Linked DNA regions of Homo sapiens: regions 1, 3 and 4 are each linked to region 2. The links come from fine-mapping of genetic effects on gene expression. A gene starts in region 2. Each other region holds a variant in brackets. All regions are shown on one strand. Distances are from middle to middle.

The links. PIP is the estimated chance that this variant, and not a neighbour inherited with it, causes the effect.
Region 1: its variant is the best candidate, but not a certain one, in a credible set for the expression of GPR78 in esophagus mucosa (GTEx, PIP 0.68).
Region 3: its variant is the best candidate, but not a certain one, in a credible set for the expression of GPR78 in nasal epithelium (TOPMed, PIP 0.67).
Region 4: its variant is the best candidate, but not a certain one, in a credible set for the expression of GPR78 in lung (TOPMed, PIP 0.66).

The regions. Positions count from the first base shown.
Region 1 is chr4:8,554,052-8,559,195 of GRCh38, forward strand. No RefSeq gene overlaps it. Among named protein-coding and RNA genes, the nearest start is that of GPR78, 24 kb to the right of the region's middle. The variant C/T (reference allele first, on the strand shown) is at 2,488.
Region 2 is chr4:8,578,236-8,583,363 of GRCh38, forward strand. GPR78 (G protein-coupled receptor 78) reads left to right here and starts at 2,157. Exons shown (of 3, transcript NM_080819.5): 1 at 2,157-3,415; 2 at 4,296-4,409. The coding sequence starts at 2,748. RefSeq lists an enhancer at 2,317-2,978.
Region 3 is chr4:8,600,984-8,606,127 of GRCh38, forward strand. CPZ (carboxypeptidase Z) reads left to right here. Exons shown (of 11, transcript NM_001014447.3): 3 at 140-514; 4 at 2,993-3,205; 5 at 5,006-5,144. It overlaps LOC124900659 (a long non-coding RNA gene), which reads right to left. Exons shown (of 3, transcript XR_007058014.1): 3 at 4,744-5,144. Among named protein-coding and RNA genes, the nearest start is that of CPZ, 11 kb to the left of the region's middle. The variant G/C (reference allele first, on the strand shown) is at 2,773.
Region 4 is chr4:8,504,664-8,509,807 of GRCh38, forward strand. It overlaps a transcript of TRMT44 not described here. Among named protein-coding and RNA genes, the nearest start is that of TRMT44, 66 kb to the left of the region's middle. RefSeq lists an enhancer at 1-406. The variant C/G (reference allele first, on the strand shown) is at 2,189.

The DNA.
Region 1 (5,144 bases), 24 kb before region 2:
GCCACTGGGCCCGGCTGGCAGTTCTGACTAGTTCTGCAAATAATGACCAGAGGACTAAAAGCCTGGGCAAGTGCTCAAAGTACCATTAGGAGGGCAATGCGCAGGACGCCACCTGGCAGGGAGCGAGGGCTGCAAGAGTGAGCCATGACTGTGGCGGGAGGAATTCCGAGATGGCCCCAAGATCACGCCCCTAGTGTACCGCCCAATATAATCCCCTTGGGGGATGTGGGCCTGCTGTGAATCTGCTGGGATTTGGCAGCTGTGATTAGGTTATCTCCTGGTACTGTGGACCTTAAGAACGGGGGATTATCCTGGGTGGGCCTGGCTAGTCATCGGAGCCTTCAAACCGACGGGGCTCCTCCAGGAGGGAGGGATTTTACAGGAGAGACCGTTCTTGCTGCTCTGAAAATGGGGCTCCACCTGGCAGGGACCTGGGCAGGAATTCTAGCTGCCGAGAACAAGCCCTGCCAACAACCCTGGGAAACCAAATTCCACCAAACCTGAGAGCTTGGAGGAGGCCCCTGCGTTTCAGATAAGATCACAACCCAGCGGACACCATCACTGCAGCCTCGTGAGATGCTGAGCAGAGGACCTAGCTGAGCCCTGCCCGGATTTTGCCCTGCAGAAATGAATATGTGGATGTGGGGTGGGTGAGGTTGATCATTCCTTACACTGCATAGGAAACTAACACCTAAGTAAAAGGGGTACCTGTGACTCCCTCCTCTGGCCTTCCACGTCCTCCGTGGTGCCCCGGCATCCCTTGCTCTCTGGTGCTATCTGCTTTTGTGCGAGGCCTTCCCCTGCTCCTTGTGCGCATCCATAAAGCCCCACGCATCCTGCGAGGCTGTGTTCGACCAGGCTTGGAGGAGCCTTCCCCGACCCCAGCGACCCCCAGGGTGCTGCCGATTCCTGGGCCAGCCTCACTCCAGCACAGGCTCTGCCTCCACGGTGTGTGTTGAATGAATGGATTTTTAACTACAGTTGACCCTTGAACAACATGGATTTGAACAGCGTGGGTCCACTTATACATGGATTTTCACCCACTTCTGCCACCCCTGAGCCGGCAAGATCAGCCCTCTTCCTCTTCCTCCTCAGCCTGCTCATGGTGACGATAATGAGGACGAAGACCTTCATGATGGCCCGATTCCACAGTGAATACATCTCTTCTTCCTTATGATTTTCTTAATGTTTTCGCTAAAGCTAGATGGTCAGATTCTTCCTTCATTGTTAGAATACAGTAAATATTTGTGTTCAGGGACTGTTGATGTTATTGGTAAGGCTTCTGGCCTGCAGTAGGCTCTTAGTTAAGTTTTGGGGGTGTCAGTCGAGCATGGTGGCTCACACCTGTAATCCCAGCACTTTGGGAGGCAAAGGCAGACAGATCACCTAAGGTCAGGAGTTCAAGACCAGCCTGACTAACATGGCAAAACCCCGTCTCTACTAAAAATACAAAAATTAGCTGGGCGTGGTGGTGCACACCAGTACTCCCAGCTACTTGGGAGGCTGAGGGAGGAGAATCACTTGAACCTGGGAGGCTGAGGTTGCAGTGAGCCGAGATTGGGCCACTGCACTCCAACCTGGGCAACAAAGTAAGACTCTGTCTCAAAACAAAAACAAAAACAAACAACAACAACAACAAAAAAAAAACCACAGACACACACAAAGTTTTGGGGGAGTCAAAAGTCATACACAGATTTTTGGCTGCCCAGGAGTTTGGTGCCCCTAACCCCACATTATTCAAGGGCCACCTGTAATTCCTAAGGATTGCTCTGGTGCTTGGAGGCCCTGGGTTCCCCCGGGGCAGGCCTGCACCCAGGACGGAAGCTGCTGGGAGTGGCCACCTGTGACTGCCTCCCTCGTATCCAGTGTCTCTTGGCAAGGGGAGGCTGGCGGGGCCTGCCATGGGCACTCCAGCCCTGTCACCAGCCTGCAGAGGAAACCATTTCAAGCTGTTCTTCAAGACTGAAAATACCTAAGAGGGCTGATGTGTATTTTTCCACGAGTTCTCTGGGGGTAACTATACAGAAAATTGTTTTGAAAATAGCATTTTTATTTTAAAACATGGCATAGGGATGTCATTAGGAAGCAAGGCATTAGGGATATCATAAAGAAGGGATATCAAAGAAGTAAAAAGAAATATACAGAAAATTAGAGGAAAAAGAGATCGATGGAGGCCCGTGACCAGAGAGATGGACGCTGGTCTTTTGATGAACATGATTTCAAGGTCTTCTCTGGGCACATGAAGGTTACCCCCTTCCACACACACACCCCTCCACACCCCAAGCCCTCCCGTGCACACTCAGATGTGGACACATAGTGAGATCATATGATGTGCCATGTATGATCTCCTGTGTTATTTTTTAAATCAACTCCATAAGCCTAGGCAGATTCCTGTGCCCATGAATGTGGAACTGGCTCGCGGATCTCACAGCTCCTGGTGTTTCCTTGGCAGGGAATCCACTCTCCAGGTGTGTGTTATATAAACAC[C/T]GCCGTCCTCTATGCATCCAAAGCATTGGACTCCTATGCTAGGCTCCTCGGTGTTAAATTCCTGGACAAACAGCTGTCAGACTTTACAGGCACTCAGTAAATGATTGCGGAATGGATTTAAAATTGTGCATAAGGATAAGCCTGTTTTTAGTATCAATGCCCAGACTGCCCCTCCCTGCCAGCAGGGCAAGCGAAAAACCTGTGTCCATTTTCCCCATCACCATCGGGAGGCAATTTTACCAACCTCATGGTGAAGAGCTCTGTCTCTTCTTTCCCTATCTTTAAGGACTAGGACATTGAGACCACTTTTTTTTTTTTTTTTGAGATAGTTTTACTTTTGTCACCAGGCTGGAATGCAGTGGCGCAATCTCATCTCACTGCAACCTCTGCCTCCTGGGTTCAAGCTATTCTCCTGCCTCAGCCTCCCGAGGAGCTGGTATTACAGGCATGCGCCACCATGCCCGGCTAATTCTGTATTTTTAGTAGAGAAGGGGTTTCACCATGGTAGTCAGGCTGGTCTCAAACTCCTGACCTCATGTGATCCACCCGCCTTGGCCTCCCAAAGTGCTGGGATTATAGACGTGAGCCACCCCGCCTGTCCGGGACCACCTTTCACACAGTTTTGCTATGGTCCATCTGTATACAGTATTTACGTTTTTTTGTTTTTGGTGAATTTCCTGTTCATTTACTTTGTCAGTTTTCTGTTGGGCATTTTTTTCCTCTTATAAAAACAAACAAACAAACCCGGAGAGTACTTCTTGTGTGACTGGTCCCGAGGCCTGGAGGTGAGGAGGGGCCTGAGCATTTTGTGCAGAAAGTCCGAGGGCAGTGTGACCTGAGCATCCAACTAGGGGACCCTCGTGGCTCCTCACTGTGGTGGGAGGCCCCGCCAGCGGGTCCTGTGAACAAGCGGAAAGTGGGTTCTGGGAGGGAATTTTTAGTGAAAAGAAGAAGGTACTCAGAGTGCCAACCCTTCATGGCATGTGGAAAGAGAGGTTACTTACCCCAGAGCCAACATGATCACAAGGCAGCCAAAATGGGCGGGGGCCATTGGCAGCCTCAGTTTTCTCATCTGTGAAGTGGGTGCTGTGAGCCTCCTTCCCTGCCACATCCGGGCTCGGGCCCTTGGCGTCCTCTCCTCGGGACAAGTGGGGCAGCCCTTCCCCAGCTCTGGGACACCTGTGCCCCTCCCACACACCCTCCGCTCAGCACAGGACCCTTTAAAGCATCTGCCCCCGCTGACCCGCTGCTTTGGGAATCCAGCTCCAACAAGAGGCTTCGAGCTGCCCCCAGCCCACCACAGCAGTGTTTGGCACCCCTGCCGCTCCCTCTGCCACGGTCACTCCTCCAGCCTGCTCCCAGCTCCCACCCTGGCCCACAGCTCTCGGCACAGGCCCCAACCATTGAGAGCTCACCCCAGTGCTCAAGGTTGGGCTGGGGGCCTCCCATCTGCCCCTCCTGATCCCTCACCTCCCTGTGCCCGGGTCTGTCTGTCTGTCCACCCCAGAGGCCACCCCTCCTTGATCATTGCTGTGACCCAGCACCTGCCTGAGGACCCTGGGAGCTGGTTCAGGTGTGCTTGGGGGGCGGTGGGGGGGCACTGATTAGGCAGGGCATGTTTGGTGCCACCTACCTGTTAGCTCGCCCACCCTGTCCCCAGGACTGGCTTCCTGGCTTGGCACAGAATTTGGCTGGCTTTCCCACTGAGAGGCGGCAGTGATGAAGAATGGGCCAGGGACAGTGCTGGGACTCGTGGAAGGGCAGTGAGGGTCAGCTGGGCTCTCTGCTTCCCGGCCTTCCAGGAAGTCACGGGTCGCCTTCTCTACCTTAGCCTCAGTTGTGCCCCAAGGAAGGGGGTGAAGTTTCCCATTGTTCCACGTTTCCAGGGTGGGAGTTGGGATCTGGGGGCAGTGGAGAGGCGGGGTGCCATGCTGGGGAGGTGTTGTTAGAATGGCCATGGTGGCATGCTGTACACTCTTGCCCTCCCCCAGCCCCACCCAGGCCTGCCTTGTTCCTGACTCACCCAGGCTTGTCCGGGAAGCCCGGCCAGAGCCACCATGCAGAATTCAATCATCCTGAGTGTGGAGCCAGGCCCAGCCCTCACTGGCCACAGCTCGGCCCCCATTTCCCTGGCCAGCACCGAGCCGCAGGGGAGGGTGAGAATCTTTGGCATCTTGGCATACGTTTGTTGTTCCAGAGTCGGGCTGTGCCGAGGGAATGTGCTGCTTCCCCCATTTTGCAGACAGGGACACTGAGGCTCAGTGAGGGTGAGGGCTCACCCAGGTTGCAGAGCCTGCCCAAAGCTGGGTCTTCTGGCTCCAAGTCGGGAGCACGCTGCACACCTCATGCCATGGATCAGGCCTTGAAGCTCTCCGTGAAGGTGTACATTGTGCCCCTCATTGACCGGCAGAGAGCCAGGCCTCAGGGACGAGATCCTGGACAGGTGAGTTTGGGTGGGAAGAGAGGAAAGAGAAACTGATGTAGTTTAGGGAGATCTCTGGTGGCGTGGATGGCAGGGCCCCTGGAAATGCTGGTTCAGCCTCAGCAGGAAGGGGTGCCGACCGACCACAGGATCACCCAAATTAGAGACCCGCAATCTGTCTCTCCCAGGCTGTAGCTTCCCGCAGCAGGGCTGTGGGCGAGGCAGTCACCATCCT
Region 2 (5,128 bases):
AGATGTAGGTAGACTTGGAGGGGCTGCTAAGGAATTTCATAGGCAATGGGGAACCATGAACTATCACTAGGCAGGGGAGGAGCCTTCGGGAACTAATCCTGAACTTTATCATTGCAATGCGTATCTCAGCAAGAATGGGCAGGATTGCATAGTTAGGAGTACTGCCTTACTTTTTAAAGAAGTGGTGAAAATATTTAATATTTTCATATACTTTTTCTTTTTGGAAGATAAAAGGATTAGGTCCAGCATTTCACCCTACAGAGGATTTAAATTTTTCATCAGGAATGAGATTTGAGTGTAAGAAGATGAAACGATATTATACTGATAAGACCACAGGGTTCAAAACCACCCCCTACAACCCAGGGAAGGGGGGCAGCCAGGCTGGCAAGATCTGAGGCCAGAAGCACTGGGGCTTTGGGGAGAGCAGCAAACAGAACAGATCTAGACCTATCAAGGTGCCCTCACCAGAGTCCAGAGATCTCACCACACACATTTTCTCATTCATGCAGTTGTCCAGTACATCCTTGCAGATGAGCAAATGGCCTGCCTTTCATAATACAGGCTGGTGGAGCTTCCCCATGCTCATGTCTCAGAAGAGATGCTCTCTGCTCCCCTGCAAGTGGAATTGTCTCCCTTTGGAGTAGTTGAGAGGTGACAGAGGCTGCTGTGAGTGGCTAGACCAAAGTCTCCCTGTGAAGCCACGTGATGACTCCACCGCTCCCCAGAGCTGCACATGGTCGCTCAGAAGCCTTGGAGGGGTTGGGGGAGGCCCCTGCTCTCAAGCCCCCACTATCACAATCACTTTGTCCCAGCTATTCACCTGCAAACTTGCTTGATCTGCAGAAGCTGCAGAGTGGCCCACTCTTCCTGGACATGTCAGGAAAACTTTGACGTGGCTGCTCTAGCTTCAGGGAAGGTCTAATTTGGTGAAAATTTGAAAGCAGGTTTGTGGGAGTGCCAGGGAGAAATGGGGAGAGAGAAAGCCTCTGTATTTGATGGATGGCAATGGCTTGGAGCTGGTGTGATGGCCTCTCTGGATGACAAGGACATTGGACTTAGAGCCAGAAGGACTGAGGTATGAATCTCGGCATTCCTGGTTTGTAGTTATGGGGACTTGGCAGAGACACTTGAATGAAACTTCCTTTGCCCAGGTATAAGACGGACCCCCTAATAAAGGTTGACTGTGTTCTGATCCTTCACTGCCTGCTGGGATGTCCTCAGCATTTTGTGCATGTTGGCCAATTTAACCCTAACAGCAACCACCAGAGGCAGATGCTATTGCTGGCTATTAATATCCCCATGTGACAGATGAGAATGTGAGGCCCAAGGGGTTTAAGTGGGGCTATGAATATCCCCATGTGACAGATGAGAATGTGAGGCCCAAGGCACAGAACCAGGGGTGCCCCAGCATGCCAGTTGTGCACCTGTGGCTTTTCCCTTGGCCACTTTGCAGCACCGGCACGAGAGAGGCCCACAGGGTGAGCCTCCACACCACCAGCCACCCTTTGTCCCTCAGAAAGGGCTGGCAGAGCCTGCAGGTGAGGGTGGGTGTGGGGAGGGGTGGGCAATCGTCTGCCCTTCATTTCTGTCATGTTGTGGCTGTCACTGGGGAGAAAATGCCAAAAAGCTTCCTGGAAGAAGCAGCTTCCAGGAGGCTTCACCATATCCTTGTCCTGCCAAGTGGCCACGAATGGATTAGAAGATTCCCACTGGGTGAGAAGGCTCAGAAGCCACCACAGAGGATGGCGGAGGTGGGAGAGGCCTCGCACCGCGGGGCTCCAGGAGCCAGGTGAAGGACAGGCATTTCTGTATGGCACCCAGTTCTGGGTGGGTCCTCCCAAGGTGCCCCCTTCTTTGTCTCTCCCTCTGTTGCTTTTCTCTCCTCTTCCCTCTTCTTCCCCCCACTTCCTCTTCACTTTTTCTTCACTTTTTCTTCTTCTTCTCTTTCCTTCCCCCATGCCTTTCTCAACCTTGTTTCCACTTCTTGTCGCTCTTCTTGCTTCAACAAACGTCGATGCAGTCACAGTTCCTGGGCTGAGGCTGGGGGATGGGAGGAAGTCCTGAGGGCAGCCCCCGCCCCCTTCCCCGCCCCGTCACTCCCTCTGCCCCGCCTGCACAGCTTCTTGCCAATTCATTCCCGCCCCTACCGCCCCTATAAGCCACCAGGTCGCTCCAGTTTGGTGCCAGCGCCTGGAGGGAGAGGCGTGGCGAGGGCTGTGCTGCCTAGGATCCACTGAGTGGCTCTTGCTGGCGTGTCAGCTGCGCGCGAACCAGGGCTGGGAGGCTCGGCTGGAGGTGTGACCAGGGCAGGGACTGACCTGGCCCGGAACAGAAGCGCGCAGAGTCCCATCCTGCCACGCCACGAGGAGAGAAGAAGGAAAGATACAGTGTTAGGAAAGAGACCTCCCTCGCCCCTACGCCCCGCGCCCCTGCGCCTCGCTTCAGCCTCAGGACAGTCCTGCCGGGACGGTGAGCGCATTCAGCACCCTGGACAGCACCGCGGTTGCGCTGCCTCCAGGGCGGCCCCGGGCTGCTCCTGCTCCGCAGAGCTACGCCCTCCCCCCGGGTGCCCCGGACCCTGCACTTGCCGCCGCTTTCCTCGCGCTGCTCTGGACCTTGCTAGCCGGCTCTGCACCTCCCAGAAGCCGTGGGCGCGCCGCTCAGCTGCTCCATCGCCTCACTTTCCCAGGCTCGCGCCCGAAGCAGAGCCATGAGAACCCCAGGGTGCCTGGCGAGCCGCTAGCGCCATGGGCCCCGGCGAGGCGCTGCTGGCGGGTCTCCTGGTGATGGTACTGGCCGTGGCGCTGCTATCCAACGCACTGGTGCTGCTTTGTTGCGCCTACAGCGCTGAGCTCCGCACTCGAGCCTCAGGCGTCCTCCTGGTGAATCTGTCTCTGGGCCACCTGCTGCTGGCGGCGCTGGACATGCCCTTCACGCTGCTCGGTGTGATGCGCGGGCGGACACCGTCGGCGCCCGGCGCATGCCAAGTCATTGGCTTCCTGGACACCTTCCTGGCGTCCAACGCGGCGCTGAGCGTGGCGGCGCTGAGCGCAGACCAGTGGCTGGCAGTGGGCTTCCCACTGCGCTACGCCGGACGCCTGCGACCGCGCTATGCCGGCCTGCTGCTGGGCTGTGCCTGGGGACAGTCGCTGGCCTTCTCAGGCGCTGCACTTGGCTGCTCGTGGCTTGGCTACAGCAGCGCCTTCGCGTCCTGTTCGCTGCGCCTGCCGCCCGAGCCTGAGCGTCCGCGCTTCGCAGCCTTCACCGCCACGCTCCATGCCGTGGGCTTCGTGCTGCCGCTGGCGGTGCTCTGCCTCACCTCGCTCCAGGTGCACCGGGTGGCACGCAGACACTGCCAGCGCATGGACACCGTCACCATGAAGGCGCTCGCGCTGCTCGCCGACCTGCACCCCAGGTATTGGCCCAGTGCATGCCGACAGGCCCAGGCCAGGGACTTGGGCGCTCCCTGGGCAGTTGGCTTGAGGAGCCTGTGGGCATCACCACCGTTACTCCGCCCAGAGTTCACCAGCCACAGCACTGCCCCTGCACGCTGCTCACAGGGGTTTCCTGTTGGTTCATTGGTGCAGACACTGCGGGGGCCTCTGCCTCCTGGGATATGTGCTCAGTGCACAGGGAGCTTTGCGCAGAGCTGTGGGGTGTGCTTCTCCGGGAGGGGTTCCGCGGGCTCTGCTGTGGGCGGCCAGACACACCCCTCCTGTGCATGGCTGTGGGTCTGAGGCATCTGCTTGTTTCTGCCCACTGCTGACCCAGTGCCCTTGCATGGACTTGGGCTTCAAGTCTTGAGCAGGGTCCATCCCCCATGCTTTCTGCTCACTACTTGGCAGGATTTGTCTCCTGAATCTCTAGCTGGTGTCGCCATTGTTCCAAATTACCTCCTGTAGGTGTTCCCCTTTCCCCCTTGGCCCCCCACAGAACACCCAAGAGGCTCTCCTGCTCCTGGGGTGGGCAGGCCACGTGACTTCTCCCTCCTTGAGGGCCCCAGCCTTGCCCCTCCATCAGCAGCCTGCCTCAGTTGCCTCTGTGTGGAGAAGGATGAGCCAGAGGGAAGGGAGGAGGAGCTGGCCCTTCTTTCCAGACTTCCTTTATTTCACCTACAAAAAAGCAAGCCTACCCCTTGTTCTTTCTCTCTCCCCCATCCCTCTGTCCTCCTCAGGTTCCAGGCTAAACATCCTCCTGAAACCCTCCTGTCTGCCCTCACTTCAGCCCCTGGGCTCTGGGCCTGGGTTCTGTCCCCACCCTGCCATCATCCTGACCACTGTCCTCTGTCCCCACAGTGTGCGGCAGCGCTGCCTCATCCAGCAGAAGCGGCGCCGCCACCGCGCCACCAGGAAGATTGGCATTGCTATTGCGACCTTCCTCATCTGCTTTGCCCCGTATGTCATGACCAGGTGGGTCCTGGCAGTCCGGCTCCTGTTGTGGGAACAGCTGGGTGGGCTTGGCCTCAGTTGAGTAGGCCTCTGAGGTTTCCCAGCAAGATATCTGGAGGGCGGCCACCACCAGAGGACCCTCCTCCACACCTGACGGGCTCAGGGCTGTGCTTCAGCTCCTGGGAAAGATCCTGGGAGGGAGGTGGCACTGGCTCCCATCCTGTCCTATAAATGAGGAGACTCTCCTTGTCCAGGCACAGGCAGATATGGGGTCTGTGAATCAGCACCTGGCTCTTTAAACCTAGAAAGCTTTCAAAATCAGGCAACCTGGGACTAACTCAGGCCTCAGACTCCGCATCTCCTGGGCGTGGAGTTGGGAATCTGGGTGGAAGCTCCAGCTGGAGCCTCGGGGCAGTAACACTGCCAGGTGAGTGTTCTCTTTGCTTCTCTCTTTCCTGGAGACCTTGGCCTGAGTGCTTGTCAGGTCAGAATTACCTGGAGTCACAGGTAATTTGGGAAAGAGTGTGTGTAAAGGGCCTGCTGGTACCATCATCACAGTGCTGTGCTGAGGGGCAGGGGAGTCTGTAGTTTTTGCCTCCGGGGTTCCTGGGTCACCCACTCGGCCACTTGGTTACTACCTTAGCTCCACTCAAGGAAATGTGTGCACCCTGCCTTGCTGGAAGGCACCGTGGTTAGAGGGAGGCAGGTTGTTTATTAGAGATGGTGACTGCTTGCTATTA
Region 3 (5,144 bases), 23 kb after region 2:
TCCTGGTCCTCCCCTGCCAGACCGTGGGTGCCCCTCCCTGCAGGCCCTGGCCCTGCGTGGGGTCCCCTACGTAAATGTCTGATGCGTGACGGTCAGGGCCACTGCAGGAGGGACTGACCTGCCGACCCTGCCTCCCCAGCCACCTGCGTGGACCTGCAGCTCAGGACCTGCAGCGATGCCGCCTACAACCACACCACCTTCCCCAACCTGCTTCAGCACCGGTCGTGGGAGGTGGTGGAGGCCAGCTCCGAGTACATCCTGCTGAGCGTTCTACACCAGCTCCTGGAAGGCCAGTGCAACCCGGACCTGCGGCTGCTGGGCTGTGCTGTGCTGGCCCCCCGGTGTGAGGGCGGCTGGGTGCGCAGACCCTGCCGGCACATCTGCGAGGGCCTGCGGGAGGTCTGCCAGCCCGCCTTCGACGCCATTGACATGGCCTGGCCCTACTTCCTTGACTGCCACCGCTACTTCACGAGAGAGGACGAGGGCTGCTATGACCCGCTGGAGAAGCTTCGGGGTAAGGGAAAGTGGCGGGGGCCTGTGTGGTCATGGGGTCCAGGTGGTCAAGGAGGACCAAGAGCCACACTGGAAGGAACTTGAGGGCTTTTCCATCGACAGTGACGGTGCAGGCATTGGTAGAGGGCGGGGCTGCTCCCCGAGGCAGCATGTTCCCCACAAAAGGGTGCCAGGCAGGGTCGGGGGCTCAGTGCAGATGGAGGATCCTCTCGCTGCCCAGGGCCCCCTAGCAGAAGTCTCCAGCCCCTTAGAGGCAGGCTGGGGTGGAAGGGTGCTGAGTCCAAGTGGGGGCAGTGCCCCCGCCCAGGGTGCAGTGAGCAGGCCTCGTGTGGGGGAGCCTGGGCTCAGAGTGCAGGGCTGGCCCTGGGGGTCCAGTCCTCAGCCACAGACCCTCCAGAACCATAGTGCTTACCCCTGGTCAAGGGGGGGCGGGGCATTTACATCCCCCGGGAGGTCTGGCGGGCAAAGCTTCACGATTGCTCATCGCTGGGCCTGGAAGATCACACAGAGGGTTTGGCTTGGAGTGACTCCTCCAAGCAGGGTCTGCACCGCCCTGTGGGCTCAAGGAGGGAGAGGAGCTGTGGAGAAATGCTTTGATGTCTCTTGCAGATGAAACAGTGGAGGGGGAGTGGGCAAGACTGGGCCACCATGGGCCACTTGTCTCTGAGGTGTGCAAAGAGGTGCCAGAGGGCCACTTGGCAGCGGGGCTGGTTGGGGGCCCTGCATGGAGTCCCCTGTGTCTGTTGTCTCACGAGTCGGTGTCCACCAGAGACCCTGCATGATCCGCAGCAGTCCTGGCCCGTTAGACCTTTCTGTGTAAAAGAAATGTTCTATTGTGTTCTGTCCAAGACAGTTACCACTGGCCGCATGTGGCCCCCAAGGCTTGGGATGTGGCTCTTGCCACTGAGGCCTGGATGTGGGCGTTTCATCGCATTTGAATGAGTCTGAACCTGTCTTTGAAGAGCCTAGGGCCAGTGTGTGCCACATTCAACTGTGCAGGGCAGTGTCCGCTCATGGTTGGGTTCAGAGGATCTGACTGCGGGTGCCACACATGTGCTAGCTCACGCGAGTCTCACGACAGCCTTGCTCCATGGAAGAGGAAGTGGAGCCTCGGGAAGGGTGACAGCAGTGGGGTCTTTAGCTGGAGTGGCCCAAGCCCATTGCGGATGGAGGGATGGATTTGGCCATTTGTCAAACAGCTACCGAGCACCCACTGTACATGTGGCTTTGTGCTGGGACATTGAGGAGGGCAGGAGAAGGAAGGCAGACAAACACCCGGGCCGGGCTCCAGCAAGCCCTGGGTTCCGGGCTATGTCAGGTGCTCAGGGCTGAACCTGGCATGTCTTGCAGCCTCTGGCTCCCAATCTGAGAAGGGTGGACCCTGGGCTCCCATGCGATGCAGCGGTAGGGGGGGTGCCCTTTGCCAGCAGGTGGGAGCCGTCTGTCTGCAGAGCTCAGTCCCTGTAGAGGTGGTGGAGCTGCCTGTGGGAGGCCAGGGAGGCGAGGAAGGAAGCCAAGCCCACAGCCCTGGGAAAGCCCAAGGAGTCGGTTGGAGATTATTTTGGGCATCTCTACCACCAAATTGCCGGCTTCCTCTGCTAGTCTTTCCCCTGGAGAACCGTTTTGAGCAGAAGCAAAACCACAGGGCAAGGAGAAGCTTAGAGGAGCACATTAACTCTCTGTGGACCCAGGAACAGCCTGCGGGCACCTGCGTCCTGCTCCTGTGGGCCTGACTGCTGCAAAGCCCCTGGCGGGGTGGAGGGAGCTAAGCGTCATCGGGGTGGCCCTCAGGGCACCTCTGTTCTAGTGGATGACAGGATGGTGGGGAAGCTGGTGCGTATGTGGTGTAGAGACGTTCGTATTCTAGTTCCAGAACCCCTCCCTCTTCCCCAGCCCCCTTTTTTCTTCCTCCCCCAAGTACTTCCCAGAGCCCCCCTTTCTGTTTCCTTCCTGGACAGGCACTCACTGTTGTACCGATGAGGTTGTAACAGAAACACTGGGAAGCCTCACAGCAGCCGGAGGGGGCACCACAAGGAGCCTTCCTGTTTCCACCATTAGCCAAGCAAATGAAGCAGAATACTGAACTGCCTGAGTGCCACTGTCATGGAAAACACGCCCAGGAAAATCCCCTCTGCACACCCAGCAGGGGTTTGCCTTGGGGGGTCCAGGACCCCATATATCTGTCTTCCTTTCTGTTGTCCTGCTCCGTATTTTAGGAGCTTCCCACAGTGGCCCCATAGTATGTTTACTCACAGTCAC[G/C]TTAGGAACCATGGCGCTGTGCTGTGTACATACCTCAGGTGCCGTTTGGCTTAGATATCGTTGTAGGCACTGCAGAGGGAACTCTAATTAAAGATAGAGATGTCCAAGCATGGCTGTCGTGCAGAGGGGACTAAGGGTGCTGTGTGTGGTCAGCGTTCCCAGGCAGTGGTAGGAAGCCTGGGGGCCTGACACTGACTGAGCCCCCCCACTGCTCCCCCAGGAGGCCTGGAGGCTGACGAGGCACTGCCCTCAGGGCTGCCGCCCACCTTCATCCGCTTCAGCCACCACTCCTACGCCCAGATGGTGCGTGTGCTGAGGCGGACGGCCTCCCGCTGCGCCCACGTGGCCAGGACCTACAGCATCGGGCGCAGCTTCGACGGCAGGGAGCTGCTGGTCATCGAGTTCTCCAGCCGCCCCGGCCAGCACGAGCTGAGTGAGTGCCCTTGGGAGAGCCTGGCCTGGCCCCGTTTCGGGAAAGGGCTTGGGCCGCTCCACCTTCGGGTGCACAAGTTGGTGGGGTGTTTGGGGTCCTGGGCAGAGCTGGGGGCCTCAGGGAGCTGCTTGGTGCAGGCCACGTCCCGCTGGGCATGTGCAACCACTATATGTATAAAGAAGAATTTCTCCAGATATCCATCTTACTTCAAAATGTAGGGTGGCAGACTAGGTTATTTCATAATAATGGAGACATTGATCTAGTGGCTGAAAAGATATAAAACAAACAAGAAATTTTATTTTATTTTTTTGAGACAGAGTTTTGCTCTTGTTGCCCAGGCTGGAGTGCAGTGGCACGATCTCGGCTCACTGCAACCTCTGCCTCCTGGGTTCAAGCAATTCTCCTGCCTCAGCCTCCCGAGTAGCCGGGACTCCAGGCATGGGCCACCACACCAGGCCAATTTTTGTATTTTTAGTAGAGACAGGGGTTTCACCATGTTGGCCAGGCTAGTCTCGAACTCCTGACCTCAAGTGATCCGCCCAGCTCGGCCTCCCCACTCAAACAGAATCGGTTATTTTAGAAGCAGCCTCCATTTGACCCTTGGTCATCACCAGTTACTGAAAAATGCACCTGCTCTTTGTTTATGGACTCAGGGCCTTTTCAGTGCTGGCAGCCTCAGCCAGTCTTCATCCTACTGGTCTGGGCAGCATGAACACCATGAGCCCAAAGGCTCTATCTCTTACCAGGGGCCAGAGGCCACCTGGCCACACCCTGGCCCCCAAGGCTCACTATGTTCCCTCTCCAACTGTAACATGCTCTGGGCAGGAGGCAGAGGCTCTCCCTACAGCACTGGAATTTGAGGGCAAGAGGTGCCCCTGTGCAGAAGGCCAAGGGAGGTAACCAGCGCAGAAAGCTCCCAGGTCATTTATACCCCGGGATGTGGCATCTGAGGAACACGGGTGTTTCCTCTCATCCCTGGCTGTCCCTGGGCCACACACAGCTGGGGAGGGAGACATCATTTTCCAGGGGAGCAAGTGCGAGGCTTAGAGAGGAGGAGTGACTTGCCTGCAGTCACACAGCCAGTAAGGCCATGGGGCCTGGTCCACTCTTCTTCCTATAGTCCATTCATTTATTCATCCATCCATCCATCCATCCATCCATTTATTCATTCAGCCATTACACATCCATCCATCATCCACCCATTCATTCATACATCCATGCATCCATCCACTCATCATCCATCCATTTATTTACACACCCATCCATCATCCGTCCATCCATTCATGCATCAATTTATCCATTATTTCATCCAGCCATTATTCACTCATCCATCCATCATTGATTTATCCATCTATCCATTCATCCATCATTGATATATCTATCCATCCAGCCATCCAGCCAGCCATTATTCATCCATCCATCCATCCATCCATCCATCATTGATATATCCATTCATCCACTCAAGGGCCAACCACCTTCCCAGCTAAGTACCAATGTGCACTTTGACTTATTACACAAACATGAAGAGAGACCATCAGTTAAATTTGCATGAATCAATGATAACATATATTATTCATATTCTTGAGTTATGCTAACTAAGAATTCTGGCTAGGCATAAAAAACGAGCTTAACAAAAGTGATGACCTTGATGAGACCTCATTATATACAGAGGTTCTTGAGTCAAAACAAGTATGAATTGGTCCCAGCCCATCTGGTCATTCTTGCTGAGTGGGGGGGCCTCATGCCTTTGGGGACCCCCGGCTTTGAGATGATGCCCCAAGTCTCTGTATTTGCCCCCAGTGGAGCCCGAGGTGAAGCTCATCGGCAACATTCATGGCAACGAGGTGGCGGGCCGGGAGATGCTCATCTACCTAGCCCAGTACCTGTGCTCTGAGTACCTGCTTGGTAACCCCCGCATCCAGCGCCTGCTCAACACCAC
Region 4 (5,144 bases), 74 kb before region 2:
GGGGAAGAGGGCACTGAAGCTTGGCAGAGCTCTTCCTGGGGTCTCAAGGGTCTGCTCCAAACCCTTGCTCTTGCCCCTGTCACAACCCAGGCACCCTGGCTGCACCTGCAAACTGCACTCCATGGTGGCAGCCCTGCCCTGCCAGTGCCAGCCCCGTCTGCCTCACCACCCCAGTCCCTGAGCTCCCTGGGGCTGAACGCCACTTCTCTGGATTCTAAATAGGCCCCCGCAGGGTACCTGTTGCTGTATCTACCACTTCCCCCAGCCTCCTGGTCTGGGTCCTGCTGATTCTGGTCATTACTCACCTTCTGCTCTACCCACCCTCCCCTGCATGCTGCCCCCAGCCGCAGAGGAATGCCCCCTCCATGTCCCACTCCCTCCACCAACAACAGCTGATCTGTCCTTTCTCCTGGCTGCGTGACCTCTCAGGAAGAGGCGGTGCTACACTGAGGGCCCTGGCAGCCTCTCTAGGTCCCTGTCCCTCACCTTTCAAAGGAGAGATAGGACAGAGGTGGCAGAAACTGGCTGGAGCAGGCTTCTGTCCGGGTGCTGCTCCGGCTGTGACTCCTCACCCCTCAGAGCTGCATCTTCCATCTGCGAACAGGAGGCTGCAGCCCCTGAGGAGGTGGCATCTCTGCCTGTGGGAAGTCAGGTGCACTGAGGCCAGATGCAGGGAGGGTGCTCCAGGCTCAAGGGTGCAGGAGGAGCCTCCTGCCCTGGGAGGCCAGCACTCAGCCCCAGCTCTGCCACCTTGACCTCCCAGCACCTCTGCAGCCCGGGCATCCTAGTCTGCAAGACGTGGTAGGGTGGATGGAGATCCCCAGGGTTCCTCCGTGGCCCTGGACAGGCAGCCGGTGTGGGGGGCATGAGTCACGCCCTGTGGGGGAAGGGGAGCAGCAAATGTGCCTGCCCTCCGCTGCACTAGCTGCACTGTTTCATGCCCATGCAACCCTAAGAGATGGGAGTCCTCACTGTCACCCTCTCATTCAGATGAGGAAGCAGAGACAGAGAGGCTGAGACACTTGCTCAAGGCCACTGATATGGTTGGGCTCTGTGTCCCCACCCAAATGTCATCTTGAATTGTAATCTGCAGGTGTTGAGGGAAGAACCTGGTGGGAGGTGATTGGATCACAGGGGCGGTTTCCCCCATGCTGTTCTGGTGATAGTGAGGGAGTTCTCATGAGGTTTGATGGTTTTGTAAGGGGCTCTTCCTCCTTCTTGCACTTCTGTCTCCTGCCACCATGTGAGATGTGCCTGCTTCCCCTTCCACCATGATTGTAAGTTTCCTGAGGACTCCCCAACCATGTGGAACTGTGAGTCAAGTAAACATCTTTGCTTTATAAATTATCCAGCCTTGGGTATTTCTTCACAGCAGTGTGAAAATGGACGAATACACACAGCAAATCACAGCACCATAGTTGGGGACGAGGGCTGTGTGGCCCTGAGTATGTGCTCCTGATGAGGACATGGGACACCAGCTAGAGAAGGGGCACTCCCTGCTCTCATGGGGACATTCACAAGGAGACCTGGTGCTCAGTGCAATGTCTGGGGACCTCCTTGAGACCAGGGCACGTGGGTGTCACAAGCTGCTGAGGGGCTGTGCCCTGCTGACACTGCTGAGGGCGCTTGGAGTGCAGAAATATTTTCAACAGAAGTGGAGCAGAAGGGATTTCTCCTAAACCCTCTGTTACCCAGAAAACGGCATGGACTGGAATTCCGCATTTCTTTAACAGTCTGTTTAGCCAGATCCTGACTCCACCAAAAACAAAGAAGCCCTCAGCCGCCTGCTGGGGTGGGAGGTAGTGACTGTCCTTCCAGCCCGGGCACCACTCCATGCTCATTGCTGATTTGGCCTCACTTAACCTTTGGTGCTGGGCTCTGCCGCATTCCAGGGTCCCTGTGTGACCTGGGCAGCCCCTTCCCCCCTCAGCCTGGGGTCCTCTCGGGCTGGGAGGTGATGGCTCTGCCCCAGGGGGAGCGGGCCAAGTGCTACGTGTGCACTTCTCTGTGGAATTCTCACCTCCTGGGCCAGCCCCTGGGCGGAAGGAGGCTGCTGGCCCCGCGTGGCCTGCCCTGTTGGAGGCTCCGCCAGAGCCCACGTCTGCAGTGCTTGGAGCCATTTCTTGGCACAAATATAAAAACAACTCCAGCTCTGCCGTGCTCCAAGTGAGAAATGCTGCTTGGTGAG[C/G]TGGGCTGGCTGGGCTGCTGGCCCTCGGTCAGCCGCCTGCAACAGGCAGGGCCACGGGAACCTCATCAGCAGAGCTTCCTGGAGGCAGCGTGGGTGGAATTGTGGAATTGTCATCAGACAGGCCTGGGATGGAGCTTCCCCACTGGAACGCAGCTGGCTGTGGACAGGGAGTCAGCTGCTGCCTGAAGGGACAAGGAGGCCTGCGACCACAGCAGGTTCCCACCTGGCCTGGGCCTGGAGGCCAGCAGGCACCTTTCAGGGCTTCCCAGCTCAGCCCCCACAGCTGGATGGAGCTGTGTTCCCTGCAGAAGTGTGGCCGGCTCCGAGCAGGCACAGGGGGCTCTTTCCCTCCACCTCAGCCCTGGCCTATGTGGGCACAGCAGAGGACGTGCTCACACCATGGGGGCCCCCGACCAGGCGAGGCCAGGGCGTGTCCACATTGGGGAAGTGAACGAAGAAGGACAAGTCTATTTGAGGGGCTGGCTGATAGTTTAGAAGCCCAGAATCGCCTGGCAGTGAATTATTCTGCTGAGTAACACTGTACCCAGAGGGATGTGGCTGAAAACCCCGGGAGGGAAGGCTGCGTGCGGGAAGCACTCCCATCCTCCCCCAGCGCCTGCTCTGGGCGTTCCGGAGCTCAGCGTGCATCCTTGCCTGTGGGTTCTGGGACCATCCTGCCATCTCCCTCCCCTTTCTTTCCCCTTTCCCCTCCTTTCCTTTCTCCTCTTTCTCCTTCTTTCTGTTTTCTTCTTTCCTGGCTGAAGCCAGAATTCATTTCTGTTACTTGCATCCAAAAAGTGTTCAAACAAGCATGCTTGCTGGGATCCTGGGTCCTGCCCCTGGTCACCTGGAGGCAGGGCTGTCGCTCCATGTACAGACAGGAGTCCAGGAAAAACTTGAGGAGACACAGCGTGTTCCGGCCCCCGCTCCTTCACCCCTGCCCCGTCCCCCAGTGACAGATCCGGCAGCAGGCAGAGCCTTGAGCCCAGAAAGCCCAGGCCCCCTGGGAAGCTTAGGTGTGGCCTCACATCTGGCAGTTTTTGCTTTGATTTGTTTTGTTTTGTTTTGTTTTGAAATGGAGTTTCGCTTTTGTTGCCCAGGCTGGAGCGTGACGGTGCAATCTTGGCTCACTGCAACCTCCAGCTCCCAGGTTCAAGTGATTCTCCTGCCTCAGCCTCCCGAGTAGCTGAGATTACAGGTGCCCACCACCATGCCCAGCTAATTTTTGTATTTGTAGTAGAGATGGGGTTTCACCATGTTGGCCAGACTGGTCTCGAACTCCTGACCTCAGGTGATCTGCCTGCCTCGGCCTCCCAGAGTGCTGGGATTACAGGCATGAGACACTATACCTGGCCTCACATCTGGCAAGTTTTACAGCTCAGGTTTCTGTGTGGGGTCCTGAGGCAGCCCCTGGGCAATTTCGTATGGCTGTGGGAGGGTGAGGAGGGACTTTCAGGACGTGACCTTGTTATTAGCAGGGGCTGCGGCTGGAGGTTGGCCTGCCGGGCCCTGAGGGTGGGTCTGGGTGCCATGGGTTGTGTCTGTTGTGTGGGTTATTGGTTGGGCCTGGGGAGCCCATGGGAGTCTCCAAGCCCCCTCCCCAAGTGACCCCCAGCCAGGCCTGGCCACCTCGTCCCCTCTGCTGGGCTGCGGAGTTGAACCTGATGTCTGCTCAGAGTCACCTCTGAGTGGTGCAGACATTCGGAAGTGTCCGTGGGACTGGATGGAAGGGACCCCATCCTCAGCCTTCATGGCCGGGGTCTGGCTGACCGACTGTGGCCATGGGGTTGCGGCGCCTTGGGCGGCAGATCCCCCATGAGTGTGAGGTGCTGGCTTCTGCACCTCCCATGAGCCCACAGACACACAAACACAACCCCGTGTTTGCTGATACATCCCAAGGCTTTGGTCTGTTGGGTTTGGGGTGAGACCCTTCCCTTCCTTTACAGATGCTCACCTGTGAAGAGGGAGAACGTCGCTGTCCGAGCAAATGTCTCTTCTGTGTCCTTGGCTGCCTTCCTCCTCCTCCTCCCGCCGCCTACTTTGGGGCCCCTTCCTCTTCTCAGCAGTGCCACTGACCAGCCCAGCCTCATGCACCATCCCGGCCGTTGCCCTGGAGGGCTGGCAGCTGGCAGGACTCAGAGAGGGCCCAGCCATCACCCCTCTCTTGAGCAGATGACAGAGTAACACTGGGAGTTACTATGGACACTGGAAAAGAGAACACAGATGCGTCGGAGATTTTGTAGTTGCAACTCTTCTCTGGTAACCAAAAAACATCAGGACATTCATTGCAAGTGCAACGCTGAGGCTTTGAAGGAACCAAAGAGATCCTTTGCAGCCCTGAGGACGGAGGGAGGGAGGGAAAAGGGAGTGGGGTGGGAGGGAGGGAGGGAGTCCACTGCAGAAAGTGGCACTGATCCCTCTGAGCCTCTCCGGCCTCATGTGTAAGATGCCAGCTGCCCCGGAGTGGCAGTGGCGAGTGAGTGGCTGTGTAAGGTGCCCAGGCAGGAGCTTGCGGGCAGCCCTGTGTGAAGTGGGCAGCCTTGGGCCGGGTTCCCTAGAAGCAGAGCTGAGATGGGGATTCTTGTTCATGCGATTGGAGGTGCTTCCTAAGAAGTTGCTCCCTGCCCCAACTCCGAGCCAGGGCAGCACTGACCATGGGCAACTTTCCCTTGCAGGGGGCACTCCCAGCTGCCGGGGAGGGGCAGTGGCCCTGAAGGGGCCTGGTCAGGACCAACAGTTTTCTTGGCAGTGGTGTGTTTGTCCCCATTTCGCAGATGAGGAAACTGAGGCTTGGAAAGACCCAGGTCCTTGCCCAGGCCCCACACCACACCCAGGAGGGGCGGCGCTGGAGTCCTGCGCCACGTCGCTGTTCTCACCAGGAGGAGGCCCTTGTTTGCTGCGTCCAGCGACCCCATCTCCATGCTGCAGGCAGGAGGACACAGCCGGGGGTGAGCCA